3 separate regions of the Homo sapiens genome follow, and regions 1 and 2 are each linked to region 3. The links come from fine-mapping of genetic effects on gene expression. A gene starts in region 3. Each other region holds a variant in brackets. All regions are shown on one strand. Distances are between the middles of the regions. Region 1 overlaps DNHD1 (dynein heavy chain domain 1). Region 2 overlaps DNHD1 (dynein heavy chain domain 1). Region 3 holds the start of DNHD1 (dynein heavy chain domain 1).

Region 1 (10,135 bases), 39 kb after region 3:
CCCGTGGCTTCCCAGGCCTGCTTTCTTTATGAAGGTTAGAAGCCACTGGGGCCTGGAAAGAGTTTGCTTGTATGCCCTGCTTGCTTCGCCTTCCCTGTCTTGGCTCTCAACAGATGAAAGCACATGTATCATTAGGTATCCAGTGGGCCACTAAAACTCCCTCCTCTTGTACAGGGGGTTCAGGCGGGCAAGGCAGGAACCGGGAGGACGTTTGATTGTTTTGTCTTCTCTCTGGCCGTGTTTTGGTCAGGCTTTACTTCACTGCTGCTGAGAAAGCTTATTGTTGTTCTAGTTTGTTAGCTTCCTGATCCTCAATCCAGGACCAACTAGTCTCTTTAAGAGGAGCAGGTGGAGAGAAATGAGCACTGGATTTAGAACCCTGTCTGTTTTTCACTTGCTTTGTAACTTCAGATTACTGTGTTTTAGTTTCTTTATTTGTAAGCTGGGCATGATAACACAGTCACTCACAGGGTTATAGTAAGGATGACTAAGATATTATTTGCAATACTCTTAGCATTGAGTGTGGCATGCAGTAGGTGCTTAATATTTTTTTCATTTCACCTTATCCCCTTGTATCTACTCTCATCCTTCTTGCTGATCTAATTTTATCTAACCCTCTGACTTAACTCTGTCGTTTCTCTTCTTCCTGAACTCCCTTGAACAACAAATGGCGTAATTATACACTCTGACGAATTAGCTTCACCAGAAACTTGGGGTCACCCTTTACTCCTCCCTCTCCTTGACCTTACTACATCCAACCTGTCTCCAAATCCTTGTCATTCTTCTGCCCCCTAAGTATCTCTTAAATCTGTTTTTATCCATCTCCAGCTTCTAATCCCAAGGAGTCCTGGTATTTTATCAATGCATTGCTCCTTTATACCATACGGTGTCACTGTTGAGCTCCCATCTGCCTTCATCTGCCTGTTGCTACTGGTCCAAAAGCAGCACCATAAACAAACAAACAAACAAACAAGCAAACAAATGTGGCAGCATTGCAATGGCCTAGTTACTGTTATGTTCCAAAGGGACAGTGTGAAAAAGGATGAGTTTAGATCTTCATGTTCTGTTTGATATAGGTTGTCCCTCAATAGGCTTCCTCTCAGCAGGTTTTCTTATTATCAGGTCTTAGTACCCAGTCATCTTGGTTACTTCCTCCAAGTCTCTGAAAGTGACATACCCAGTATGTCTCAATTATCTGTCCCCCAAACTCACTATTTTACTTACTAGTTGCAGAGATGCTAATAGAGGATCGGTCAGTTTACTTTGCACATAACATAAAAAATATTTTTAAATACTTTTTATAAACATATATTTTTATGTTTACATTTATATTTATAACATAAACATGTTTATATTTAAAATATAATGAAGTGGAGCCATGCTGCCTGAGTCTGAATCCTTGCTCTGCCACTGTGTGATGTTGATCAAGTGACATAACCTCTCTGAGCTTCAGTTTGCTTATCTGTAAAATAATAGTATTTACTTCAAAGGGAATTTGTGAGGATAAAATATAATTAAAGTACTTGAAATAGTGTCTGGTATGTAGAAAGCACTCTATACTCTATTTGGTGTACCATATTTCTATATTGTATTTTTCCTATTCTGTGCATATTTTAACATCTCTGAACTTTAAAGGTGTCTCATGATTGAAGATGTGTTAGAGTTTAGATGGCATCAGTTTTTTTTCTTTGTTAGTGGTATATAAAATAATGGTGCTTCTTACAACGGGATCTTAGATTTTATGAGGTATCATATGGGTGTTATCCCTGCCCTCTGAGATAATAAAGTTGTTCATACTGCCAAGGGCAGCTTCCAGGATTACTTTCTAGCCCCTTATCCACCTGAGACTTTCTTTACTTTAATCCTTAAAAACAAAAGGCAGATCATACTACCTTCTTGGTCCCCTTCTTCTAGAGCAAGGGCAGTAAGACTCCAAAACCAGAATACTTTTATGTCTGCTAGGATACTCTGCTATTCACAAACATGTCATTTCCATACTGTTGCACACACTGTTTCATCTTTTTGGAGAATTAATACTCAACACATCCAACTCCAGTGTTCCCTTCTCTGAAGGGGCCTTGCCCAGCCTTCTCAGGATACCCCCCGGCACCCCCACCTCTTAGCTATACTGGCTGAAGGCTCCAGGCACTCACAGTGGATTTATCACACTGATTTGTGATTGCTCATTTGTATGTCTGTCTCTGCCTCATATTGTGAGCTTTTCAGGGTGGGGAAACTTTCTGTCTCATTCATTTGCTCTCGTCTACCAGTATAGAGCACAGTCCCCAGTGCATAGCAGCTGACTGGACATTGAGCAGGGATTCAACAAGCATTAAATGAGATAATTCATGGTCTGACCTGCCATTCAGCCTACTCCCACTCTGGACCACAGCACTGTCCCCAGCACCCCTTCTTTTTTATGCGTCCCCTCACACCTTACTCTCCTGTCTCCAGAATCCAAGCTGAACAGCATAAGGAAGGACATTCTTGCACACGTGCAAAATGAGTGCTGGAACCTCAGTCAACAACTCATGACAGAGCTCACAGATTTCATGCATATCTTCCGAACCATCAACTCAGATATTCATGCCATTGCACAGTGCACCCAGAAGGTGGGCTCTCCCCATCCATCCTTCCCAGTTTATTCAGGGCCCATCCTGCTCAAAAGCTCAGCACACTCTCTTCAGGTCTCTGCTGAGCCCCCAGCAGAGCTTGATGCTCTTAAACTGTGCTCGCCTAAGAGATCTACCCTTGCTAATTCTTACCCTGTCCATGTGGCCCTCAGGTTCCTCATGTCACAGGGAGGCCCTGGTGTGATGAGAGAGTTGTGCTCTCTGTGACAGTCAGATAGAAAATTGTTGCCTTGTCATCAAGGTAATGGGGTGGTGGGTGAGAAGTGGACCCTTCACCAGAGAGATCTGGGTCAGAGAGAGATTTGATCCCTCTGGAGAGATCCCTCAGGAGAGATTGCCCCTGATTCCAGTTGATTACAAGGCTGCAACTGGGTCTGGAGACTTCACTCCAAAAGGTGGGAGTTCCCCTTGGGGATGGGACCAAAGAGGTACATGGGGTTGTGGGGCTGCCGGTCTCATGCTGTAATTCCTGCAGTTGAATGAAGCCAATGAACAGTACGTCGAGCTGGAGGAGCGAATGGAATACGTACGGGCACTCCACGAACTCATCCGCAACCACTTTAGCCTCTTTAGTGCTGAGAATGAAGCACTGGACATCTCGGTGAGAAGGCAATTCGGGGAGTCACCCATCCCTCCCTGCCCTCCTCCCCCACAACCACATCTACTCCACTGCCCTCTGCTTGCCCCACAGCTTCTGGATATGTGGGAGGCATTTCAGTTTGAGAAAAGCCAGGCTTCAGAGTTCCTGCTCAGCAAGCGACATGCCATTATGCCCAAGCTGCAGCAGCTGATGGCAGCAGCATTGGCAGAGCTGGAAGGCCTGCTTGCGAAGGCCCTCTCCGGTCCCTTTATGGACCCCACACAAGATCAGAGGAGTACTGAGCACCAGCTCGTCTCCCTAGAGCGTCAGTTCCAGAACACAGTCAGCGACCTCAGTGAACTGCACCACGCCTATGCCATCTTCACTGGTACTGAGGATCCCTGCACCCTCCATTATCACTCTGTGATAGACCCTTCAACTGAAGTAAGAGTTGGAACTCAGGGTTCTGTGTCCTGTATGACCCCAAGCAAGCCTTGGGAATCACACACCTTCACTGGTGTCTTTTATAAATGAAAATTTCAGGACAAAAACATCATATATTGACCATGGCAGGTGTTGTGCTTAGGGTGGGGGTATGGGGGCTCACAGTCTGGTAAGGAAGGCAAACAAGTGAATGTTCCATCAGAATGTGATGGGGTCAGGGGCTAAAAGCATGTGTGGGAGAAATGTAAGTTCTCCTTATAGAACGTAGCCTTTTTGTAGCCCTGTTCAACACAGTCCTACACCAGGCAGCAGGCCCCGAACAAGAGTAGGTCTTGATGCTCTAGCAGATCACTTCCTCCAGCCAGTGTGGTATAGAGAGGAGGCTACTGAGGGCCTCACTAATACACAGGAGGAGGCCAGGACAGAACTATTGGTCTCAATTCTTTCATACAGTGGTGCAGGTAAGCTGGTTCCCTTCTGTTCTTAAAGAACTCTGTGGGCTCTGGAAGGAGACCAGAGCAAATATAAGAGCCATTACCAAACAATGGAGACAGGATCTCAGGCTAGAGTGCAGTGTCATGATCACAGCTCACTGCAGCCTCAGCCTCCCAGGCTCAAGCAATCCTCCCATCTCAGCCTCCTGAGTAGCTGGGACTACAGGTGTGTGCCACCATGCCTGGCTAATTTTTGTATTTTTTGTAGAGATGAGGACTCACTTTGTTGCTCAGGCTGGTCTTGAACTCCTGGACTCAGGCAGTCCTTCTGCCACAGCCTCCCAAAGCACTGGGATTACAGGTGTAAGCCACTGCGCCTGGCCTTCCTTCCAGAATTCTTATATGTATGTTGGATTTACTGAATCTCTCTCACTCATTGCTTTTATCTTCTTTATCATCAGTCATTCCTTTATTCTTTTTCTCTGAGTTCTGGAAAAATGTTGTGAGCTTGTTTTATAAGCTTCCATTTCCTATGGTATCACTTTGTATTTCTATTGCATTTTAAAACACACATTTTGCATGTGTATGCATGCTTATGTACACATGTATACGCATGTAACTGTGTGTTTATGTGTATATACATGTGCACACATTTGCTATCTCTATCTGCTGAAGAGGACATGAAGCAAAGAAACCCCAGTAGCAAGAAGCCACATTGTGCTCAGGTCTTAGTTTCTAACAAACACCATTCCCCATTAAAAGGAACCAGAGCTCCTTAGAGAAATGGATGATTCCAGGGCTGTGGCAGGGTAGGTACAAGATGAACCTAAAGTGTCATTTTATACCAGAAAGTAAGAAAGTATTAAAGTGTTTAAAAAAGTGATGGGAGCATATCACAAGGATTCAGAAGGGATACCAACTGGCTAAATCTGGAACAATTTGATCACCAAAGTAAGTACAATAATAAATTCTAAGCTATTGAAGTAAAGGCATTTATTATGCGTAGTAATAATAAATAGATAATGAGAGAGAAATGAGGACTCATGCTTACAGTAAAATGCCAGGAGCTGACTGGCATAAATGTGGAAGGAAGGCTGGAGTGGGAAAATTATTATTTTGCAACCATCATGGTAATTACCAGATCAGATAAGGATCAACAGATGCCAAATCTAGGGCAAATTTGATGAGGAGCAGAATATTTGCACTGTCTTTGAGAGTTTCTCCCAGAGATCACTTATTTGTTGTAAAAAAAAAGAAAGAAAGAAAAAGAAACAACAATTAGTGGAGAAATCAGACAATAATTTGACCAGGTGATTAAAAATTAACATCACCAATGAAGGACATAGGGACATGATCTGCCTTCAGATGTGATACTGGAGAAGGAAGGATACAATATCACTTATGTAGTAGTCCAGCTGAGAATGAGTATCATTTTTAAAAACCATAAAAACACAACATGAGGAACTTTCTATGAACAAAAAAAATGGCAAAAGGGGACTGTATACTTCAAAGATGTCTGTTACAAAAGAAAGAAAGGCTATGGAAATGTTCCAGATTAAAAGAAACTAAGAGACATGACAAATGCAGTGCTTGACCCTGGACCAGATGCTATAATTGAGGCAAAAAATGCAATCTAGGACATTATTAGGTCAACTGACAAAACTGAAATATGGACAGTAGATTAAAATATTGTATCAATATAATATATGAAATTTGGAATTGCACTGTGGTTATATAAAAGAATATCCCTACTCTTAGGAAATGCATACTTGAGTATTTATGTAACTTGCCCTTAAATAGTTCAGAAAAAAAAATTGTGTGTGTGTATATGTGCATACACATGCCCATGCACAGAGCATGTGAATGCAAATGATAAAGCAAATGGGTAAAATGTCAACAAAAGGCAAAGATAAACAGTATAGATATATATCTATACCTATGGAAGATAGAAGGTACACAATTTTTTTTTACTACTTTTTCCTACAACTTTGAAGATTGGAACTCATTTTCAGATAAAAAGTTTTAAAATGCATGGAAATTATCAAGTAGATATCACAAAATGTCTGTCAAAGGACATTTGCTCTTAATCCCCAGTTTGTCTTTATCTTTTCATGTGTTTGGAGATGATATCTCTG[C/A]TCTTTCTTACAGATGAAGTTGTTTATTTGTCTAATATTTGATGTTGAAACAACTGCTGTCAAAGATTGTATGGGACTCTAGCCATATCTTTGAGTTTAGACAAAGACTGGAAGAGTTTAGATTTACTGTCATTTTACTTTTTGTCAGATCAGAGCTTTGATAGCCTAGTGATTCCAGCTTTTTAATACTCTGAGATCTCCAAAATGGATGATGTGCACATGTGTAAGATGCATGAGGCCCAGCATTTGGGTGTGACTCTATCACTTTTTGTCCCACTCAAGAAAGTAAACTGGAGTTCAAGTTAATGAGATATCTGTTGTCTTTTAAGTAAATTGCAAACCTCGATATTATAATTATTGTTAATTATAAATTCCTATTGACACTTATCTCACAACTGACTATAAGTAACTGATTAAGAACTAATGTAGTACCCTGTGAGATGAAGGGGTGGAGGATAATGGCCGGAGGTAAACATGACAGGTCCTCTATGTGGGCCAGATCTTTTTTATATTCATCTTGCTGAACTTTCTTTTGGGCTGACAGTTCATTCGCTCATTCATTCATTCATTCATTCAACACATATTTGTTGAGAGACTGCTGTGTACACTAGGCTTGAGGTACATCAGTGAACAAATGATAAAATGCTTTTCTTAATGGACCCAAACTTCTAGTTGGGAGAGAAAGACAATAAACAATGATGATAACCAAATTCTGTAGTATATAAGAAAGTGATAAGTGATAGAGAAAAAAAAAAAATAGAACAGAGTAAGAGGGGTTGAAAATGCCGGGAAGGGTAGCTAGGAATTTTTAACCAGATAGCCTGCATAGGCCTCATTAAGAAGGTGCTGTCTGGCTAGGCGCAATGGCTCATGCCTATAATCCCAGCACTTTGGGAGGCCGAGGCGGGCGGATCACGAGGTCAGGAGTTCGAGACAAGCCTGGCCAACATAGTGAAACCCTGTCTCTACTAAAAATACAAAAATTAGCCTGACATGGTGGTGTGCGCCTGTATTCCCAGCTACTTGGGAGGCTGAGGCAGGAGAATCACTTGAACCCGGGAGGCAGAGGTTGCAGTGAGCCGAGATCACGCCACTGCACACCAGCCCAGGTAACAGTGCAAGACTCTGTCTCAAAAAAAAAAGAAGATGCTGTTTGTTTGAACAAGGACTTGAAGCTGGTGAGGGCATGAGCCATGTGATTCTCTGAAGGAAGAGTGTTCCAGAAAGAATAGACTGCTAGTCAAAGGCCCTTAGCAGGAGGGTGCATATCTGGTGCATCTCAGCCATAGTAAAGCGTCCAGTGTCACTAGAATGGAGTGAATGAGATGGAGACTAATTAAAGAGGAACTCTTCCCTTTCACTGCCATCACATTTTCCCAGATGGTCTTTCCCTGGAGTAACTGTTCCTTGGATTAACCCCACCTCCATTGTTGAGCCAAACAATTTGGAACTCCACCTCCCCCACCCCCAACCATCACTTTCTGGACCCTACCTTCTGTCATTATGGGCTCTTGACTGATCATTCCACCACCCCCCTCCCAACACTGCAAGTAGCCCAGGTCTCAAGTCAGCCCTCCCCCACAGAGGATGAGACTCCTGTGCCCTTGCCAATCTGTGGGACACGTCCTATTGTGCAGCAGCAGCGCATATGGCACCTGTACCGAGTCATCTCCGAAAACATCAGCGAGTGGAAGTGCATGGCTTTTGCCAAGGTGCTGACACCCTTCCTTGGAGCTCTTGACTGGGAGTGGAGGACTACAGTGGTGGGGGAGGGGAAGAGTCTCAAGCTGACAGTGAGCCCTTCTCCCTGCAGTTCAGCCCAGCTATGGCCCAGGAGAAGACAGAGGGCTGGCTGACAGAGGCAGCACGGATGAGCACAACCCTGGAGCTGCACAGCCCCGTGCTGCAGCACTGCATGCGCATCCTGGGGGAGTTTCGCAGCTACCTGCCCCTGCTCACTAAGCTGGGCAGCCTCCACCCACAGAGCCTCAACTGCCAGTGTCTCCTGCGTGGTATGTTTGGTTAATGTCAGAGGAGGGGGAAAGGGAAATATGTGAGGTTAGAGCGATGCAGCAACTCAGTTTCCTGCTGCTCCTGCTGGAAACACCTTTCATCCCCAAGTTTCTCCCTACCTTTCCCACATATTTCAATTTCTTTTCCTTAACTGGGACAAAAATTTTTAACTTCCCTTACTACCTCCTCTCTGCTGATGGTGGCTGGGCTTGGGCTGGGGCCTTAGCTCTGGGCTCTGAGTTGTGCTCTAGACCTTGAGTTCTAAGCTGTTGGCTCTGTGTTGTGCTCTGAGATCTGCTATCTGGGGTCTGAGCTGGGCTGGGCTGGGCTGGGCTCTGGGATATGGGATATGGGTTGGACTCTGCCACATACTGGGTGTTGCTCTGACTTGTTTTCTCTACCTCCAGCCCTTGGGCTGGGCAGTCTCCAAACTATAGAACTCCTAACGCTGGGCCAGCTGCTTACTTATCCACTGCTGGAGTTTGCAGATCGAATCAACCAGGTGGGGCCCTCAGTACAGGGGCGAGGGAGGTGGTCCAAAGCCAGGACCTGTAATAAAGCCAGTCAAGGGTGGTGGGTGTTTGGCATGTGATTTAATGTGGGGTTGAGCCTGCTAACCTGCCTGAAGGGCAGGAACAGTTTCTTTAAGTCTCCAGATGGGGATCTCTTGTGTGATTCCAGACTCCCAGTGACTGAGAGTATGTCCCTGATGGGGGAAGGAAGTGGGTGGCAGCCCCGAAGTTGTGGGCACACAGAATGGCAGGTGCCCCCCAACACCTGTCTTGTCCCCAGAGGGTGCGAGCTGACTGAGGTATTTGCTCAGTTGGAGCCTTGCAAAAGTGGGTGGGGGTTCCAAAGCAGTGGCCCTGGGGCAAGGTAGTTAGATGCTGCCGATGGCCTATCTTTGAAGCCTGATGGTCCCACTCTCGCTTCATCTCTGAGACCTCCACTTTCCTGAGCCCTGGCCCTTGAGTTCTGCCTCAGATCCAATCCCCAAGTCTCGGCTCCAAGCCTGTCCCCGAAGCAGTTACCCAGTCCTGGTTCCTGAGACCCAGCTGTTCCAGGTCTGGCAGAATGAAAATGAACGAATTCATGCCCAAGAGACTATACGGCGGTTGCAGCGGTACTGGGAAGCGCGCCAGCTGCGCCTGCTCAACTTCATCCTGCATGTACCCTACGAGCCCCCAGCCTCAGAGCGCTCCAAGAGGCAGGTGCTCCGCAGCCCCCAATGGGAGGTAGTGGACAAAGATAGTGGCACCTTCATCCTCTCAGGTGAGACCCAGACCTTGTGACCTAGTGAAAGCCCCCTGCTGGGGGCCATTTTCATCCACCATATCCATCAAGGCCTGCCAGATCTGATTCTCTAGCCAGGGCCCCATCCTTACTAGACAGCCTAAGACATTAGTCTGTTCTGAGACAGTGTCTTCCATGTAGCCCCCCTACTGTCTTAATCTCCTTGGGATCCCCTTCCCCTCACCCATCTCTACTCAATGCCTGGGTCCTTCAGCAAAGGTCCTCCCCTTTCTGGGTACCCTCAGAAATTCCTCATAGTCAGTTATCTACACCTTTCAATGCTCTGTCCTCTAGATTGCACCCTGCTGTCTGATTTTATACCTTATTCATTAATTCATTTCTTTATTCTCTCCCTCATCAAACCTGCCTCCTCTGTGCTAAACACAGGAGACCTTGAGACTTACAGACAGTATCCCTGTCCCCCAGAAATTTCTGAGTCCAGTGAGGAGAGACAGACAATACTATAGGGATAAACACAATGGAGCACCTTACTGAGGGCAGTAGAATCTCAGAGAGAGGACCAGCTCAAAGAACCAGAGAGAGAATTAGAGAAGTCTTCTTTAGGCAGAGGCCTTATACTGACTTTTTGAAGGAGTAAGAGTT
Region 2 (10,135 bases), 51 kb after region 3:
AGTTAACATTTGCACCAAGATTGAAAGGAGATTGTCTTCCCACTTTTGTCCTGAGCACATTTTATGCTAATCCATTTGCCCATCTCTGACCCTGGTTCCACACTTTGCCAGTCTGCTCCTACTTGATCTCTACCACTTTTCTGCCTCATCCTTAGATTTCTCTGCTACTAAAAGTAATAAATAAAAATTCGTAATACAAAGTAAAGGCTCTGGATAATGTGGGCCTTGGGATGCCTGTGGGCATAATTTCAGATACCAGCCTGGGTCCTACCAGTCTTTCCTGAGCTCACAGCCCTTCCTCCACCTTTGCTCCTTTTCAGTTTTCCCTTCTCTCTCTAAGCTAGCATTTGCACCAAGCACTTGTGTGGTTGAGGTTTCTCCCTATGGGTTCTCTCCTTTCTCTGTACCAGGCTTTCTTTTCCTGTTAACTCCGGGCATGTTAACCAAGGACCACATCTTTGTAGTGGCCACACACCATGAAGCTGGTGACTTCGTTCACCCAAATAAACCCCAAATGATGGACTTGTTATATATTTAATTCTTACCTCAAGAAGACAGGTTGTTACAGGATTGGGCACACCTACAAATTATTAATCTCCCCTTTAGATTCTTAACCAAATGAGGACAAGGATATATATGAAAATGAAAGTATACTATCAGAACCATCACCCCCAAGGAAGTTTGTGCTTTTTATGTATCATGTTGGCAGACACAGCTTGGATCTAGGTCAAGTGAGACTTCGTGCTACCTCGTCATAATCTTCCCCCAATTAATTGAGAACTTGAGGTCTGTGTGGATATGCAGAGAAAAGCTGAAGTACAGTTACACAGGTAGCTGTGTAGAGGACTGTGGCCTGCCTCATATCCCATAGAGCATAAAAGATGGGCCTCTTTGCCTCCTCACATGGGGAAGAGTAAGGGAAGAAGATAGACAGAGGGGCTGAAAGCATTAGTCCAGTGCTGTTTTCTCTAGAGAGTGGAGTAGAAGTTGTGTGACTCTGAGAGCAGGATAATGAGTTTTCTTCCCACCAGGGATGTTTGGAGAGTCCTACATGTGTCTGAATAAACCTCCTTTCTTGATTCTTCTCATTTTTACCCCAATTAGTGTCCCTACCTCATTTCCAGCCCTAGTCTTACCAAGCACTTGTGGCATGAAGGGATAACTCTTTAAGCAGCACCAGGGAGCCAAGCACTAAGACTATGAGAGAAAAGTTTGTTCTCAGCTTCTCTACCAAGACCCGTTTTAAGACAGAATGGGCATTCTTGCTATAGAAATATTACGTAGGGTCCTGGAGCCATTCAGCCCTCTTCCCGGGCTAGAGGCTCTAGTTCTTACAAAGCACTTCCATGGAGTTACGTGGATACTCATAGCAGCTAGTCAGGGAAATTAGCTGGCCTGGAGTCTGCCCACAGTGCCTTGGGAAAGGAGGAGCTTCTTCTCTCACCATTTTGAGACCCCAGTGCTTTACTGGCTCTACATATTGGCTGATGGAATCCTTAAAGGCAGAAAGGGCAGCTGGGCATGGTGGCTTACACCTGTAATCCTAGCACTTTGGGAGGCTGAGGTGGGTGGATCACCTGAGGTTGGGAGTTCGAGACCAGCCTGATGAACATGGTGAAACCCCGTCTCTACTAAACATACAAAAAATTAGCCGGACATGGTGGCACACACCTGTAATCCCAGCTACTCAGGAGGCTGAGGCAGGTGAATTGCTTGAACCCAGGAAGCATAGTACAGTGAGCTGAGATCGTGCCATTGCACTCTAGCCTGGGCAACAAAGCGAGACTCTGTCTCAAAAAAAAAAAAAAAAAAAAAAAAAAAGGGAAAGAAAAAGACAGAAAGGGCATCAGGGTCTCTGTAACTGCCTCTCCTGGAAGGTTCCCCTGGTCTCCTCTTCTCTCCCCCAGCCCCGGCCCTTGCCTCATCTGACTGCCAGTTCAGCTTTTTCTGTCTTAGATTACAGCAACCTGCAGGATTCCATCCAGGAAAGTCTTCAGGTGTTGTCCAAGATCTTGGCCATCGAAAAGTCAGGAGATTTAAACAAAATAGCTTTGGAGTGGGTGGCCATCATGCATGGCCTGGGTAAGTGCAGGCCTCTAGCCAGGCTGATGGGTGAGACCTGAGGCAGGATGTCCCAGAGGGATGGGGGTGAGAGGTGGAGGTTGGGTGGGAGAAGATATGAAGAACACAGTGAGGACCTCCTTCAGGGCTGTTTCTTGGGATGAAGAGATCAGGTTTTTATTCACAGTGAAAGTTTTTTCTCCCTCAAGCAAGTTCCCTGAGTCCTGCTGGGCAGAGTATTTTGCTTGGGCTGGTGGGGTACCTGAGAGGTCAGGAGCAGGGTGGACTCCCCTGCAGAAGGTAGAACCCTAGTGTTTCCCACCAGCATTCCTCTGGCTGCTTACACAGGTGCCCTGCTGGAGGTGTGGCTGACTTTCCAGCAGAAGTGGATTTTTCTGAATAAAGTTCTGCATGAGATGAAGATCCAGTTTCCTAATGCTGACCTGGTAGGGAAGGGGGTTGAGGCAGAGAGGGCAAGAAGGGTTCCTGAATAGCAGGGCTCAGCGTGGGAAAGGGGAGCTGCCACTTCATATTGGCCCTCACTTTTATCCTCTCCCTCACCACAGAACTCTCGTTTCAAGGTCATGGATGACCAGTATCGAACCCTGATGCGCATCTCTGTAGCTGACCCCATGGTTCTGTCACTTGTAGTGCCCAGTGCCGAGAGGAGCCCTTACTTCCAAGGCCAGCAGCTGCAACAACTGCTGCAAGCAGGATCGGTGGAGCTGGAGGGCATCATCATGAGTCTGGAGAGCGTGCTCTATGGGGTGTGTGCTCACTTCCCCCGCCTCTTCTTCCTTAGTGACAGTGAGCTGGTAGCCCTGCTGGCTGCTCGACTGGAATCATGCGAAGCCCAGCTATGGGTACGACGCTGCTTTCCTCATGTGCATGCTGTGAGCTTCAGGTCTTGCCCAACTGGTGAGAAAAACACAGATGACTGGGAGTCAAGCCCAAACACACAGACTCAGGTGGAGGCACTTGCAGTGCTAGGGGCAGGTGGGGAGGAGGTGAAGCTGCAGGGTCCCCTTCCTCTGCATCCAGATCTCCCTAAGTGGCTGGCCTCTCTGGAGAAGTGTCTGCGCTTGGCACTGGTGCACATGCTGCAGGGCTGTGTGGCTGCTCGCCTTGCTCGAGGCCCATCTCTAGGTGAGGCCCTCAAGCAACTGCCCAAGCAAAACAAGTTGTACCTGCAACTGTATGTCCAGCACTGGATCGACTTAGTCCAGGCCTTCCCATGGCAGTGTGTGCTGGTGGCAGAGGAGGTGGTATGGCGGGCCGAGATGGAGGAGGCTCTGCTTGAGTGGGGTACCCTGGCCATGGTCTCCATGCATATGCGCAAGCTTGAGGTACTGGTGAATTTTATGCGGGCCCAGAGGGCTTCCCAAGGTGGGCAGTCCCTGCCTTCTGTCCGCCAGACCAGCCTTCTCAGTGCCCTGCTGGTCATGGCAGTGACTCACCGGGATATAGCACAGCTGCTGGAACAGCACCAGGTCAGTGATCTCACAGACTTTCACTGGGTCCGCCAACTCAAGTATCACTTGGGTTCACCTCACATAATCCCCAAAAGCCCCCTACAGAGTCTTAAGACTATTGCATCTTCTGAACCCTCTCTGTCACCAGCGGCATGCTGGATAGATGTGCTAGGCAGGTCCTTCCTGTACAATTACGAGTATCTGGGACCTAGACTAGGGCCTCTACCCAGCCTACTGCCTGAACGGCCAGCCCTGGTACTATTATTGGCCCTAGAGGAGGTGGCCTGTGGGACCGTACTGGGTCCTAATGGTGTGGGCAAGAGAGCTATAGTGAACAGCCTGGCACAGGCCCTGGGCCGCCAGCTGGTGATGCTACCCTGCTCACCTCAGATAGAGGCTCAATGCCTGAGCAACTATCTGAATGGTGCCCTGCAGGGTGGTGCCTGGCTGCTGTTGGAGAAAGTTCATCAGCTGCCCCCTGGCTTGCTCTCTGCCCTGGGCCAGCGCCTGGGTGAACTGCACCACTTGTATGCCCCACTGTACCAGGAGGCTTCCCGAAACACAAGCACCATAGACCCCACCCAGCCCCAGCTCCTTGGCAGTAGCTTCTTTGAAAAACATCACGTGTCTGTGCGCCTTGGCTATGGCTGTCTCCTGGTACTGCGTGCCCTGAGCTCTGCTGTGCCTGCCAACCTGCACCTGCTGCTGCGGCCTGTGGCATTGGCATTGCCTGATCTGCGGCAAGTGGCAGAGCTGACTCTGCTGGGTGCAGGGATGAGGGATGCCTTCCAGATGGCTACCCGCCTATCCAAATTCTTCTCTCTAGAGCGTGAGCTGGTGTCTGGGCCCCTGCCCTGCCGCCTGCCACTGCTCAAGCAGATACTGGAAGACACAATACGGACACTAAATGTGACCAAGGAGGAACCGAAGTGCCAGAAGCCTCGCAGCCTAGCTGCCATTGAGGAGGCTGCCCTACTGCGCTCACCACTGTTTAGCATTCTCAATGGGCTCCACCTGCACAACCTCCGAGGGCTGTTGTGTGCGCTTTTCCCTAGCGCCAGCCAAGTGCTGGCAGAACCTATGACTTACAAGCTGATGAAGCCATTGGTGGTGGAGGAACTGCAACAGGTAGGTCTGGATCCCAGCCCTGACATTTTGGGGTCCTTGGAACAGTTGAGCCAGGCCCTGAGCCGGGCCTCAGGCATTCTGCTCCTGGGCCCTGCGGGCAGCGGCAAGACCACTTGTTGGCACAGCTTATTTAAGATCCAGAATCGGCTGGCAGCCATGGAGGACACCTCAACCCAAGGCTGCCAGCCTGTGGAAATTACCCACCTGTACCCCAGTGGCCTCAGCCCCCAGGAGTTCCTGGGATGGCTAGAGGGCTCCTGCTGGCATCATGGCATCTTTCCCAAGGTACTTCGTGCAGCCGGTCAGTGTAACAACATGGGCCAAAAGAGGCAGACAGAGGAATCAATCGGGATCCAGCACTGGATAATATGTGATGGAGCCTCCAATGGTGCTTGGCTGGACTCCATCACTTGCCTCCTGAGTGAGCTTCCCCAGCTTAGTCTCCCCAGTGGACAGCAGATAGCACGACCCCCAGGCACCTTTCTCTTGATGGAGGTGGCTGACACAACAGGCATATCCCCCACAGTGGTAGGCTGTTGTGCCCTAGTCTGGTGTGGTGGAGAGCAGACTTGGCAGTGTATACTTAGTGCCCTGATGGCATCCCTTCCTTATGAGTACCGCCTGCAGCACCGGACAGTCGCTGAGCTCAACCACATGGCTGAGGTTCTGGTGCCTGCAACATTGCGATTCCTCACCTGCCAAGGTGTCAGCTCTCTGCTGCAGGTACACGGGCAGCAGGCTGTTTGTGCAGGTGTGGCAGAAGTTACCAGCATGGCACGCATCTTGCATAGTCTGCTTGACCTCCACCTTCGCCTAAAGGAGGAGAAGGCCCCTGGCCCAGGTGGGAAGATGGACGGGCTGGTTTGAGAGAGATGGGGCCTTAAGGGTAGCTGGGGTATATAGCTGGAGCCTGGGGCGTGTGTTCTTTGGTGGATCTGGGCCAGGAGTGAAAAGTAATACTGTCAA[C/T]CTTTTTTCTTTCTTTCACCTTCCACCTTTTTCTACTGGGGCTCCTCTCGTGGCCATGGCAACTTTCACAGAGGACCTCAGCTATAGTGATCCTGTGGCCCAAAGCTTCAGGTCTTCAAAAAGCAGCTTTCTAAACCGGTCCCAGGTTGACAGTGACGATGTGCCAGATAAGTGCAGGGAACACTTGCTGGCTGTCAGCAGTTTTCTTTTTGCCTTGATCTGGGGCTTTGGAGCCCACCTTCCCTCCAGGTACCTACCAGGATGGGGGATGGGAGATGCAGAGGGCTGAGATGGACTGGCCCATGGAAGTAAAAACCCACATGACATCACTGTTAGGGTATGGTGGAGTGTGTGAGTGTGTCATAAATGGAAGTGTTGTAACTGTCTGACGCTTTTGCCTGTGTGTCCATCTGAGCAGGTTCTGGCCCATCTTTGATACCTTCATAAGGGATTCTATTAGTCGCCTCTCCAACTACCCTGAGCCACCACCCTCAGCCTTGGTGTTTGATCTACATGTAAGCCCTGAAGATGGAACACTGGTCCCCTTCACTGGCCAATACCTGAGCAGCCACATCAAAGGAACTTTGGGCACCTTTCACCCTTCTATCCAGGTGTGAGGACAGTAAGGCAAGAGCTGGGGTTAGAACTTCAGGACTTATTTTAGGGGTAATCCATGTTCAAAGATCAGCTGAGGCCCACTTGCTCCCTTTCTTTGATATATTTTCACAATCACAAGAATACATGAAATATTTTCCAAGTACAGCTCTAGGACAAGTCCCTTAGACTTTTATTTTCAGCTAGATTACTGTCTTATACTGGAGGTGCTGCAGTAAGTCCCACTTCTGTCTTGCAGACTGAACGGCTCTTGTATGTGGTGGACCTGCTTCTGTCAGGGGGACAGCCAGTGTTGCTGGCTGGAGAGGCAGCAACAGGGAAGTCAGCCTTTGTGGAGGTGCTGGTAGAGCCACATCACCCTTACATATACAGCCCCATCCACCCTGCCTTCAGTTCCTCCCACCTCCGTCTCCTGCTGAGCAGAGGAATCCAGGGCCAAACACAAGCCAGCCCACAGCCTGGGCATCACCAGGATTCTAAACCCTCCCTCCTCTTCTTGCTGGAGGACCTGCACCTAGCCACTTCTGGTGAGGAGCTGCGAAGAGGGAAGGAAGGAGCTACTGTCATCTCTTGAGACTATAAAATCCCTAGCAATATTCATTGACTCTCAAATATATGTCTGTAGATCTAACTTTAGTGTTCTGTTCTTAATATCTTCTCATTCTACATATGCTCCCTGAACAATCCCATCCACTCTCATGGCCTCATCTCTGCTTTGCTAAATCTCTGTGTCCAATCTCACTTCTTTTCTAAGCACCAGATCTGTCTATCCAGCTGTCTACTGTACGTCTCCACCTTGTTGTCCTGTTGGTACCTCAGACCCAACCCTGAGCTCATCATCTCCCCGCGGCCAAAATCTGCTCCTGTCTGTCCTCTTAGTTTCACCATCCAGCCAGTCATGTAAGCCAGAAATCTTGTTGACATCTCATTCTCCTTCACCAATATCCAGTCACCATGTCTTTTCAATCCTACCTCCTTCATATTTCTTGAATCTTTCCACTTATTTCCATGGTTCAGATGATCTTTACTTGGAAATCTGACAAATGCTCTTACAAAGCTTTCTGTGATGAGGCTTTCTTCTGTGTCCTCTTACACTCTCTCTAATTGGACTTAACAAGTCAGGCTTCCTCTAGACCCTGGGATTGCTGTCCTCTCTGCCTTCTCTATGTGGCTAAATTCTACTTATTATTTCTAAATTACCTAAGGCAGTAGCTTCTCCAGGAAGCCTGATCCATAGGCTCGGTTAGATATCCATCCTGTGCTCTGTACAATAATCTGTGATAACCATGATTTTATTATTGTATGCTTGCCTATCTGTCCCTTTCACCACACTTGGAGATTTATGAGAACAGAGAACAGAAATTTGTCTCATTCATTTTGGTAGACCCAACAGGAAGTAAGTGCTCAATAAAAGTTTGTAGAAGACAAGATAACAAAGGAAAGGAGAAAAATCTTGATAAAAATTTGGGATATTGAAGTGTAAAGTTTCTAAAGTGGTATGCCTCTAGATGATGAGAGTTTCTAAATATGGCCATGGGATTGGGAAGTGAATTTTAGGTAGAGGTTGTTGGAGTCAAGGAAGTCAATGGGCTGAAGCACTGGATAGGCTATCCAGTTAAACAGCGAAGTCTCTTATGAGATGTAGAAAACTTGAACCAGATGTATTCGTACTTAATAATAGCCAGTACAATTTATTGAATATCTACTATGTGCTCTATGATATGTCTATGTCATCTTCAGTGCTCATAAAAGCCAAGTAAGATGGGGAATTTTTGCAATTATTTTAAAGATGAAGAAACAGAGACAGAGATTTTAGAACTTGCCCAAGATACCCTAGCTATGAAGTGTCAGAACCAAGATTAAAATTCAAGTCTATTTGGTTCCAAAACCTGTAGTTCCTTCCAGCTATATTATTTGGTCTTTGCAATGAATTTGCACAAAATTAGAGACAATAGAAGGAGTAAAGAGTGGTACAGTCAGATATATGAAGAGATTTCAGCTGAGAAGAGACTTCAGCAACATTGTAGAGTGAAGAATATTACTGCTGGCAGAATGTAAAAGGTGTCCTTGAGTGACAACCACCAGAACATCCAGTATAAAATAAAAAATAAATAGACATGCCAACAAAAACCCCCAGAAAATAATGTGACCTGCTGTCAAGAAGAAGCAAGCAATAGAATAGAAACTGACCCTGAGATCTATATAGCTGTACGCTGTCCAAAAGATGCACTTTAAATATAAAAACACAGATAGATTAAAAGAAGTTTTTAATGCAAAATATTTACTACAGAAATAGTTTGCATAAGGAAGTTGATGTGGCAATATTAATACCAAAGCACTTTAAGACAAAGGATATTACCAGAGATAGAAAAGGACATCTCATAATTGAAAGATTCAACTCATCAGAAAGACAAAAGTCTTAAATGTGTCCACACCTAAAATAGACATTTAAGTATAGGGAAAAAAAGCCAATAGAAACAAAAGAGACATAGTAAATCTGAAATCATATTAAGAAATTAATATGCCTCTCACAATAACTGATAAGACAAGGAGCAAGAAAGTAGGGACATTAAAGATCTGAATAACACTAGCAACACACTGACATTTACAAAACATTATACTCACCAACTGCAAAATGCACCTTCTTTTCAAATGCACATGAAACATTCACCAAGATAGACCATATGCTGGGTTACAAAATAAGTCTCAACAAATTTCAAAGGATTAACATTTTAAATAATATTTTATCTGACCATAACAATACAAATATTGATAAGATGCCTAGAGAATTTCCAAATTCTTTAAAATTAACACACTTCTAAATAATGTACCAAAAAAGAAATTACAAGAGAAATTAGAGAATGTTTTGAACTAAATAATAATGAAAACAAAACATATCAAAATTTGTGAGATGCAACTAAAGGTTATAGCTTTAAATATCTATCTTAGAGAGAAAAGCTTGGAATCAATGACCTAAATTTTCAGCTTAAGACTCTAGAAAAAGAAGAGCAAGTTATACCCAAAGCAATTAAAAGGAAATCAATAATAAAGAACAGAGCAGAAATCAGTGAAATAGAAAAACATACAAACAATGGAGAATATCAACAAAGCCATATTTTGTTTCTTTGAAAAAGATAAAATTGACAATCGCCTATTAACACAAATCAAGAAATGAAAAGGAAAACATAAATTTTGAATATCAGGAATGAAAGAGGTTTTATTAAAGATATTTAAAAGGATAAAAAGGGAGCCAGGGCCGGGCACTGTGGCTCACGCCTGTAATCCCGGCACTTTGGGAGGCCAAGGAGGGCAGATCACGAGGTCAGGAGATGGAGACCATCCTGGCCAACATGGTGAAACCCCGTCTCTACTAAAAATGCAAAAATTAGCTGGGCATGGTGGCATGTACCTGTAATCACAGCTACTCGGGAGGCTGAGGCAGGAGAATTGCTTGAACCAGGGAGGTGGAAGTTGCGGTGAGCTGAGATTTGCACCACTGCACTCCAGCCTGGTGACAGAGCGAGACTCCGTCTCCAAAAAAAAAAAGGGGAGCCAGGCATGGTGGCATGCACCTGTAATCCCAGCTACTAGGGAGGGAGGCTTAGGCAGGAGGATTTCTTAAGGCCAGGAGTTCAAGACCAGCCTGGGCAGCATAGTGGGACCCTCATTTAAAAAAAAAAGTTTTAAAAAATGGATAATAAGGGAAAATTATGAAAAACTTTATGCTAATAAATTTAGCAACTTAGGTGAAATGGATACATGCTGTATTAGTCTGTTTTCACACTGCAATAAAGAACTACTTGAGACTGGGTAATTCATAAAGAAAAGAGGGTTAGGCCAGGCATGGTGGCTCACGCCTGTAATCCCAGCACTTTGGGAGGCTGAGGCAGGTT
Region 3 (10,135 bases):
CTCGATCTCCTGACCTCGTGATCCGCCCGCCTCAGCCTCCCAAAGTGTCATTTTATTCTTTATTATCTGTCCCTCCCACTCGAATGTAAGGTCCATAACTCAGGAATTTCTGTCACTGTTTCTGTTTTGTACACTGATATAACCAAACACTGAAAACAGTGCCTGATGCAGTTGATACTCAATAAATATTTGTTGAGTGAAAGGAGGCAAGAAAGAATAGTCCCAGGGCAAAGGTATAGAACTTGCCTTTAGAGAGAGAAAGAGCATCTCTAATTGGTAACAGTAAGGAGGGAGGAATGGATAAGAGCAGATCTAAATGATTTTAAAATTTAGCATTTGGAGATTGAGAGAATTCCTTTTAAATAGCATGTGATGGTTAGTTTTGTGTGTCAACTTGGCTAGGCTATAGTACCCAGTTATTTAATCAAACCCTAATTTGGGTGTTACTGTGAAGGCATTTTTATAGGTATGGGTAACATGTACACTTAGTTGACTTTAAATAAAGGAGATTACTCTTGATAATGTGGGTCTGTTGAAAGCCTTCAGAGTAAAACTGAGGTTTCTCAGAGAAGAAGAAATTCTGCCTCAAGACTGCAGCATCGGGCCAGGTGCAGTGGTTCACACCTGTAATCCGAATGCTTTGGGAGGCCAAGATGGAAAGATTGCTTGAGTTCAGGAGTTCAAGGTTGCAGTGAGCTATGATCTGTACTCCAGCCTGGGCAACAGAGTGAGGTTTTGTCTCTAAAAAAATAAAAATTTAAAAAAGAGGAAAAAATAAGACTGCATCATTAACTTCTGCATGAGTTTCCATCATGCCAGCCTGCCCTACAGATTTTGGATTTACCAGCTCCCACACATGTGTTAGCCAATTTCTTAAAATATATGTCTTTATATGAATATATATATCTTATTGATTCTGCTTCTCTGGAGAATGCTGATTGATAATACAGCATCTCATTTTTTTTTCAAATAGAAGGTAAAGTCATCATCTGAGAATAAAGCAGAAGGAAATGGAAGATGAGAGAGTACAAGAGGTTTGAAATACTGATTGCCCGGAATGGAAGAGTGAACTGACAAAAGAAACAGAGTTTTAGGCAGTGTTGAGGGTTCAGCAGAGCTTGCTGAACAGAATTCCTTTCTGTCTTTGTCTGAAGAGCTTTGATTGTGTTTTTTTGTTGTTTTTGTTTTTTGAGACAGGGTTTTGCTCTGTTGCCCAGGCTGGAGTGTGGTGGTATGAACACGGCTCACTGCAGCCTTAACCTCGTGGGCTCAAGTGATCCTTCCACCTCAGTCTCCCAAAGTTTTGGGATTACAGGAATGAGCCACCGCACCCACCTTTTTCTTGTTTCAAGGCCTTAAACTTTAAGGACTATTGTGACTCAGGTACCGTTCCTTGCCCTTTTATGAAAGAGTTGTCCATGCTCTTTATTCATGCCCTCACTGAATCCTTTGTCTTGTTCATCGTTATGTCAAAATTAATAACAACTAAACACTTAACAATTATATCAAATGTCTACTACTTACCAGGCTCTATTCTAAAGCATTTTGTGTGCATTAATTCACTTAATCCTCACAATACTATAAGGTAGACATTATTATCTTCATTTTCAAAAAGTGAAACTGAGGTAAAATATCCCATGACTAGTAAGTGATGAAGTTAGGATTTCAATCCAGGCAGTCTGATTCCAGAGCCCATCTTCTTACTCACAAATGAAGATTGTTATACATTTATGTATTTTTTTCCATGAATATTTTCTGATCATGTACTCATGGTGCCTAGTATAGGAGCTGGGGATAGAGTAGGCAGCAATCAGAATCTCTGCTACCATGGAGCTTATATTTCTAGTCAGGGGAAATAGGAAATAAATAAGTATTTATATGAAGTGGTAATAAGTGCTGTGGAGAGAAGTAATGCAAGTAAAGAGGATAAGGATGTTGGGGAGAGAGTTGCTATTTTCTGTTGGGCAGTTAGGGAAGAACTCACTAATAAGGTGACATTTGAGCAGAGAATTGAGAGAGTAAGCCTTGAGAGCATCTTGAAGAAGTGTTCACTCTTCTACTGTTCAACTAGTTGTGTAAACCACTAGTGGTCCTCTAGTATCCATTGTCTCCTTTCTTTATGTAAAGAACCTCTAAATTTTCTGTTGGCATATGACCACTGAAAATGAAGATTAGATTTTGTAGCTTTCCTTACAGCTAGGCTTGGTCATGTGATTGATGTGTGCAGTTGCCAGGCTGTGCCCTTAAAAGAAAGGGTATGCCTTCTCCTTTCCTTTTCCCTCCATCTCACTAGTTGGGATGGGACGTGGCACACATGGTGGTAAATTATTTTGGACCTTAAAGATGAGGACTACTTCCTTGGAGAAGGCAGAACAACTGAAGGCTACCGTGGTAGCCTCAGAGTACTTATATTTGGATGGTTATGTGAGAGAAAAAAATAAACTATCATGTTTAAGCCATGATATTTTGGGTCTTTTTATTACAGCATTTGTGTGGTAGGTAGAAGTTTTAGATCAGGGGTCCCCAACCCCCGGGCCACAGACTGGTACCAGTCATGGCCTGTTAGGAACCAGGCTACACAGCAGGAGGTGAGTGGTGGGTGAGCAGGTGAAGCTTCATCTGTATTTACAGCCACTCTCCATCGCTCACATTACTACCTGAGCTCTGCCTCTTGTCAGATCATTGGTGGCATTAGATTCTCATAGGAGCATGAACCCTATTGTGAATAGCACATGCTAGGTGGCATGCTCCTTATGAGAATCTAATGTCTGATGATCTGTCACTGTCTCCCATCACCCCCAGATCGGATTGTCTAGTTGCAGGAAAACAAGCTCAGGGCTCCCACTGATTCTACATTATGGTGAGTTGTATAATTATTATATATTACAATGTGATAGTAAAATAAGTAAAGCTCACAATAAATGTAATGCATTTGAATCATCCTGAAACCGTTAACCCCTCCCCTGGTCCGTGGAAAAATTGTCTTCCACTACACTGGTCCATGGTGCCAAAAAGGTTGGGGACCACTGTCTCTGAGATTTCCTGCTCTCTAGTATATATCTCCCTAGTATACGCTGCATATTCCATGGGACTGTGAATGTGACAAATTTTACTTATGTGAGAAGGTTATAATATATGGCATAGTTGACTGTAAGAGCGATTGTCTGGGTGGGCCTGATCTAGTCACATGAGTCACATGAGCCCTTTAAAAGCAGAGTGTTTTCTTTATGGTTGCAGAAGGGGACATCAGAAAAGTGTGAAGCATGAGAAGGGTTAGAGGCACTGTTGTTGGCTTGAAAATGGAGGAACCACATGTCAAGGAAGACAGGTGGCCTCTAGGACCTGAGAGTGGCTCCTGGCTAATGGCCATGAAGAAAACAGGGACATCAGTCTTAGAACTGCAAGAAACTGAATCTTGCCAACAACAATAATAGCTTGGAAGTGGATCCCCCCACACCCCCCACCCCCTAGAGCCACCAGATGAGTAGCCCCGTCAACATGTTGACTTCAGGCTTATGATACCCTGAGCAAAGAATCCAGTAAAGTCATGCTGGACATCTGATCTACAGAACTGTGAGGTACTACATAGGTGTTGTTTTTAAGCTGCTTAGTTTGTAATAACTTGTTATGCAGCTCCAGAAAACTTGCGCGTTAGTGGGGGTTCTCCAGAGAAACAGAACTGATAGGCTGAGAAGTCCCACAATCTGCTGTCTACAAACTAGAGAACCAGGAAATCTGGTGGTGGAATTCAATCCAAGTTTGAAGGCCTGAGAACCAGGAGCACTGATGTCCATGGACAGAAGATGAATGTCTCAGCTAAAACAGCAAGTCCACCAGCTGCCTGTTTAAATTCTGTTTAGGCAACAGATTGTACAATGCCCATCCACATTGGTGAGGATGATCTTTACTTAGTCTACCTATTCAAATACTAATCTCTTCCAGGAATACCCTCAAAGACACACCCAGAAATAATGCTTTACCAGCTATCTGAGCATCCCTTAGCTCCGTCAAATTGACAAATAAAATTAACCATCACAGCCGGGCATAATAGCTCGCGCCTGTAATCCCAGCACTTTAGGGGTGAGGTGGGAGGATTGCTAGAGGCCAGAGGCTCGAGACCAGCCTGGGCAACATAGTGAGACCCTGTCTCTACAAAAAAATAAATAAATAACAGTCATAACTTGTGTATCTCCTAACTGATACACAAGCAGACAGCACAGCTTGTATGTAGTCTGTGAGGTGGGGGTATGGCTGGTGTGATTCAGGCACAGCAGTAGTAGAGTGTGAATGTGAAGAGAGAAGCCTACAGAGGTAGCAGGCAGTTATCAGCAATTTGTAGGCCATGATAGGACTTTGGCCTTCAGCTGAAGGAATTAGATGAGGGGGCATTAGTGAGCTATGAGCAGAGGAGTTATAGGATCTGCCTATATTTGAAAAGGATCACTGGCTGCTCTAAAAAGAATGGATTGTAGGGGCAATGGTGAGAAGCATGAGAAGGATCTGAGGCAAGGAGAACAGTTCAAAGGCTGTGGAAAAACCCAGGTGAGAAATGATAGCAGCTTAGACCAAGGTTGTAGTACTTAAGATGGTGGGAAATAGTTGGATTCTGGATATATTCTGAAGGCACAACCAGCAGAATTTCCTGAAGGATTACTTATGGAGGGAGGGGGAGAGAGAGAAAGAGAAAGGGAAAAAGAAGAGGGAAAGAGAAAGAAGGGGTTTGGAAGAGGTCTCAAAGCTGACTCCAAGGTTTTGGTGTGAGAAACCAGAAAGAATGGATTTGCCATTGACTGAGGTGGGAAAGACAGTGAAAGGAGCAGCATTTCTTTGGTGGGGAAAGGGTGGTTAGGAGCCTGCTTTTGGACATTTTAAGTTTGAGATACCTATAAGCTCTCCAGGTGGAGACATTAAGTAGGCAGTTGGATATACTAATCTGATTTCAGAGGAGAGGTGGGCTGAATTTCTTTTTTTATTTTAATCATCAACTTTTTTTTTTTTTTTTTTTTTTTTGAGATAGAGTCTCCCTCTGTCGCCCAGGCTGGAGTGCAGTGGCGCGATCTCTGCTCACTGCAAGCTCCGCCTCCTGGGTTCACGCCATTCTCCTGCCTCAGCCTCCCCAGTAGCTGGGACTACAGGCGCCCACCGCCACGCTCGGCTAATTTTTTTGTATTTTTAGTAGAGACAGGGTTTCACCGTGTTAGCCAGGATGGTCTCGATCTCCTGACCTCGTGATCCACCCGCCTCGGCCTCTCAAAATGCTGGGATTACAGGCATGAGCCACCGCGCCCGGCCTCATTCAACTTAATTTTTAAAAATTAGCCCCTCCATAAGCCCTTCCCCAAAAAATCCCCCTCCCCCCGTGCCAAATAGATGTTGAGCTCCTTGAGATCAAGGATTTTGTTTTATTCGGGCTTCTTTTGGGGAGGTGGGATAGGGTAGATGGATACGTTGGGGGTGGGGATGGGGGAGTACCAAAGACATACCAAAGACCTGGCACTAGTTTAGATACTCAGCGAATGGATATAAACACCTGCTTACGACACCCTCTGGATTGCTAGTCTCCCGAGTCAACCGTACTGCACGTGCAGTTCAGACCCCGCCTGGTCCTCTACAGGTCCCTGTCCCAGGCAAGCCTTAGCCCACAGGTTGAACCTAGTTCTGCCCCTCCAGGCTTGGGCTCTGCCCTCTCGGCCCCGCCCATATCGGACCCTGGCCCCTCCTCTTTCTGGCTCCCCCGGATGCTCCTGGCAAAGACTCGGTCCTTCTGGAATCTTGTAACGGTTCTAACAGCTGGGTGCGGGTGGAGCTGCGGGTGAGTCCTCGGCTCCGGATCCATTTCTCTTTGTTCCCTAGGACCCCCTCCCACAGAGTCCGCCTCCTCTTCCCCGCTCTCCCAGCCCCCTCCTTTGCCTGTTAACGTCTTCCCCTACCTGCATCCTGACCATCATTTGCTGTGCCTGCTCCTCGGCTTTCTGTCTTCACGACCTCCTTAGGCTGTGGGCGAAGACGTCATGGGACTGGGGCTCTGCTGCCTTCGAGTGACGACCTGTTAACCCGTTTTTCAGGCGATCGCCAGCTCGAGTGCAGATTCCTTGCTGTGACCGAGGTTCAGAGTGAGCTCTGTCGGTGTGTCAGTTTGCCTCTTCAGGTGATTGCACGTCTGTGTGCGAGTCTCTCCGTGTATGGGTGGCTATGATTAGGGTGAGCCTCAGACTGGAACTCAAGTCTAAGTTCATTCACTGCTCCAGCAGGCACTCTTCAATGAAACCTCATCAGCAGATCGGGCTCTCTTCCCTTGCCTTGCCTCCTAACCCCCCTAGGCCAGGTGAGGGGGACAGGGTACTGGGAGGTAAGAAGGAACTCTTCTGCAAGGAGGGCTCTCACGTCTGTCTTAGGCCTGCTCCTTACCAGAGTCTTTGGGGAAGCAGTAGGGAGGGCCTGAGGGTCTCAGGAAAGGCTCTCTGCTGGTCTGGCTCTGCTCTGTAGCTCCATCTATTTCCCTGTCCCAGGTCCTTTCTTCCTCCTAACCCCATTGACTCTGACCATCCCCTGCCCAGAGCCTGAGGTCCCTTCTCTGGCCCCTCTGCTGGGCTGGCCCATGCAGGTGAGGCCCCGCATCTGGCATCCTGGAACTGGCAGTTGGAGCCTGAGCTATGGGCAAGGTCACTTCGACAGCAGTTGAATGCCCAGCTCCTCATGGTCCCGGAGGAGAGGAGGGTAGGTTTGTCTTCTGATGAGACATCATCTGATTCCCTTAAGTCTTGGCACTCCATATGTGTCTTGGACAGCAAAGAACAGCCCTTGGCCTGCCAGCAGAAACAGAGGCAGTTCGTGAAGCCAGTGACTGAGTCAGAGCAGCCCACAGTGCTGGAACTCCTGCTAGCTGAGCTCCGAACTCTGTTCTCAGCTGTGTTGCAGGACAGTAGCCCTGCAGCTTGGCGCTATCTTCATGCAGTACTGGGTCTACTGCCTCCATATCGTGAGTTGCTAGTTGGCCACCTTGATTTGCTGCCCTTCCTGGAGCAGCTGTACTGCTGGGCACCCTGGGTCCAAACCCACCTCCATCTGGACCTGCTAGGTGCCATTGTCCAGGCCTTTCCTCCAGACAGCTCTTTGTTAGACAGTGCTTCCCATGCTGACTGCTGTCCCCAGAAGCGGAGGCTCCATCACAGGCCCCCATGCCCAGCTTGCCCTTTTGTGCAGGCCCAGTGGAGCAGGCAGCAAGTAAAGGAGGAGCTGGCCACCTGGCTGCGACCATTGACACTGCCTGAGCTACAGCGCTGCCTGGGCATTGTTGGTGCTCAGGTGGCCCTAGAAGAGGCTGTGTGGCTGGATGGACTTAGTCTCCTTCCCTTGGCACTGGCAGCGGACATCCCTGTACGGTATGAAAGCAGTGACACTGACAATGCAGAGGTGGAGCCTGTTGGAAGAAAAGAGACCAGGTAAGTGAGGGACTCAGTCTAGGGCTTGAGCAGAGGAGAAAAAGTTGCTGTTTTATGGGTGCCTCTGGGGTCACTTGGAAGTTTAGATCCAGCTCTCTGTTTATCACAGGGATTAGCCCAACTCCACACAAAGCTAGTGTGAGGCTACTTTCCTCTTCCTTTTTCTCTGCAAAATAAACCCAGTGGTGTTAGTCTTAATCCCCATAGAGAAATACAGAAATTAATGAAAATCAGAAGTCAGCTATGAGGCAGCCAAAGCTTTAGAATAACAGCTTGACTTTTCAGTTTCCAGGTTTTTTTCTTAGATGATGTCAGAAGTCTCCTTAATTATTTTTCTATAATTCATTCATAATCACTGAACATTGCCTGGGCCTACTGTGAGTTGATTCCTGGATGTTGGGTCTTTCCCTCAAGGTACCCCTGGGGAATGTGTGTCCGAGTGTCCTTCCCACATGTCTATGTGACTTAAACCGGCTCCAAGGCAGAGTGGAGTTGGCAGCACTACTGGATAGAATTTCATTTTGACCCTTCCAGAGTCTTCTTCTTGCCCTGCCAGTGTGGGCACTCTGGCCCCTTGAGTGATATATTTTTCTTTTGTTTCTTTCTTTCTTTCTTTCCTTTTTTGAGATAGAGTCTCACTCTGTCGCCCAGGCTGGAGTGCAACGGCATGGTCTCGGTTCACCGCAACCTCCGCCTCCCGGGTTCAAGTGATTCTCCTGCCTCAGCCTCCTGAGTAGCTGGGACTACAGGCACGTGCCACCATACTCAGCTAATTTTTATATTTTTAGTAGAGACGGAGTTTCACTATGTTGGCCAGGCTGGTCTCGAATTCCTGACCTCATGATCCGCCCACCTCTGCCTCCCAAAGTGCTGGGATTACAGGCGTGAGTCACTGCGCCCGGCCCTATTGTTTTCTTTTTTAAAATATCTGGCTATCAGAGCTCTCTACAGGATTTCAGAATGCTTACAGAGACCTTCTCTTCTCAGCGTTCTCTAACTTTCGATTTTTTTTTTTTTTTCTGAAACAGAGTCTCACTCTGTCGCCCAGGCTAGAGTGCAGTGGCCTGACCTTGGCTCACTGCAACCTCTGCCTCACAGGTTCAAGCGATTCTTTTGCCTCAGCCTCCCGAGTAGCTGGGATTACAGGCTCATGCCACCACGCTCAGCTGATTTTTGTATTTTCAGTAGAGACAGTGTTTCGCCATGTTGACCAGGCTAGGTTTCCAACTCCTGGTCTCAAGTGATCTGCTCACCTCGGCCTCCCAAAATGCTGGGATTACAGGCATAAGCCACCGTGCCCAAGAGAGTTTTTTAACTTTAGTTTTGGAATTCTCCTTGTCCTCTGGCCTCATTTTCTAGACAATGCTTTGCAGCTGTCTGTGGCACATTTACTGTTCGGGAAGAAGGCTAGTTTTACCTTTAATTAAGGTTGGCTTCCTCAGTTTTTGCTGTAAGTTTATGGCTGGGTCAAGTCTTTCCATTAAAGCCTAATGTTAGATAGATAGGCAGGCTCCTGGGGCCCTAATGGGAGGTGGCCAATGCCATAAATTTATGGTGGCCCTATTGGAATCTTTTCCTTTTTCAAAGAGCTGCCCTGTGCCTTGAGTACAAGTTTCCTTTCCTGGGAGAACTTGACTGAATTGGCATGGGCTGAGATGTTGGGAAGGGATCAAGTTCTTTGCCCTCCCTTTGAACCTGGCAGTAAACCTCTGAGGTCTAGCTAATATGGCTTAATTTGCATTACGTTCTCCCGGAGTGGTTTGCCAGGCATTCATTCATTCAATAAGTGTTGGATAGCTACATTTATTAGGATCTGCAAGATGCTAGGGATACAGAAGTGAATGAGACAGACTCAATCCCTTCACTTGAGGTATTACAGTTTAGTTAGGGAGATATAGTTAAGTTGATAACAAGTAAAATATAATTACAAATTGTAATAAGTGCTATAAAACAAAAGAATACTGTCTTTTGCCTGGCTGCTTCTCTGCAGGTGGGAGAGAGAGAGAGAGGGAGTGTAGTTAGGGGGAAAGCATGTGGGGGGAGTGTTCAAGTCTAGATTAGATTAACAAAAACATCAAACAGAGTTTCAAGGAGGAGGGAGCAGTCAGTAGTATTACATGTTAAATGAGACAAGTAAGAAGAATGAAAATGTTCATTGGATGTAGTAACAAGGAAGAGGTTAAGTTTTGTGGGGAGGAAGCTAGATTGTGGTGCATTGAGGAGTGAATGGAAGATGAAGTGGAAATCGCATTTTACGATTTTTTTTGTGAAGCTTAGCTTGAAGGGAAAAGACAAATAGCAGGGCAGCAGCTTGAAAGAATTTTGGTGTCTGGGTAGGGATTTTTTTTTTTTTTTTGATAGAGAGATGTTTATATCCCTTAACACAGTGCTTGAGAAGTAGGTGCTCAATAAATATTCGTAGACTAAATGAATAAATAGACTAAGGTAAGAAGAAGAGTAGATTAAAAATATATCATAGAGAATAAGGGGTCCAGAGCACTGATGGAGGAATTAATCTTACAGAGAAGAAAGGATACCTCTTCCTCTGAAATCGGGGGACAGATAAGTGTGTGGGGGAAGGCAACTGAAGTTGAGGGAATTGGCTAATGGCTGAAAACTTCAGCTTTCTCCAGGCAGAGAAGGAGACAGAGAATGGGATGGAACTGGGAGCTCAGCAGGGCTTGCATGGGGTT

The links. PIP is the estimated chance that this variant, and not a neighbour inherited with it, causes the effect. A credible set is the group of variants that fine-mapping cannot tell apart.
Region 1: its variant is the best candidate, but not a certain one, in a credible set for the expression of DNHD1 in whole blood (TOPMed, PIP 0.61).
Region 2: its variant is the best candidate, but not a certain one, in a credible set for the expression of DNHD1 in whole blood (TOPMed, PIP 0.72).

Annotation. Positions count from the first base shown.
Region 1 is chr11:6,530,573-6,540,707 of GRCh38, forward strand. It overlaps DNHD1 (dynein heavy chain domain 1), which reads left to right. Exons shown (of 43, transcript NM_144666.3): 13 at 2,455-2,612; 14 at 3,109-3,601; 15 at 7,811-7,938; 16 at 8,040-8,238; 17 at 8,647-8,741; 18 at 9,304-9,511. Among named protein-coding and RNA genes, the nearest start is that of DNHD1, 38 kb to the left of the region's middle. The variant C/A (reference allele first, on the strand shown) is at 6,227.
Region 2 is chr11:6,542,165-6,552,299 of GRCh38, forward strand. DNHD1 (dynein heavy chain domain 1) reads left to right here. Exons shown (of 43, transcript NM_144666.3): 19 at 1,957-2,082; 20 at 2,410-2,507; 21 at 2,628-5,502; 22 at 5,699-5,876; 23 at 6,046-6,238; 24 at 6,481-6,769. Among named protein-coding and RNA genes, the nearest start is that of DNHD1, 50 kb to the left of the region's middle. The variant C/T (reference allele first, on the strand shown) is at 5,628.
Region 3 is chr11:6,491,520-6,501,654 of GRCh38, forward strand. DNHD1 (dynein heavy chain domain 1) reads left to right here and starts at 5,761. Exons shown (of 43, transcript NM_144666.3): 1 at 5,761-5,812; 2 at 6,066-6,148; 3 at 6,252-7,442. The coding sequence starts at 6,697.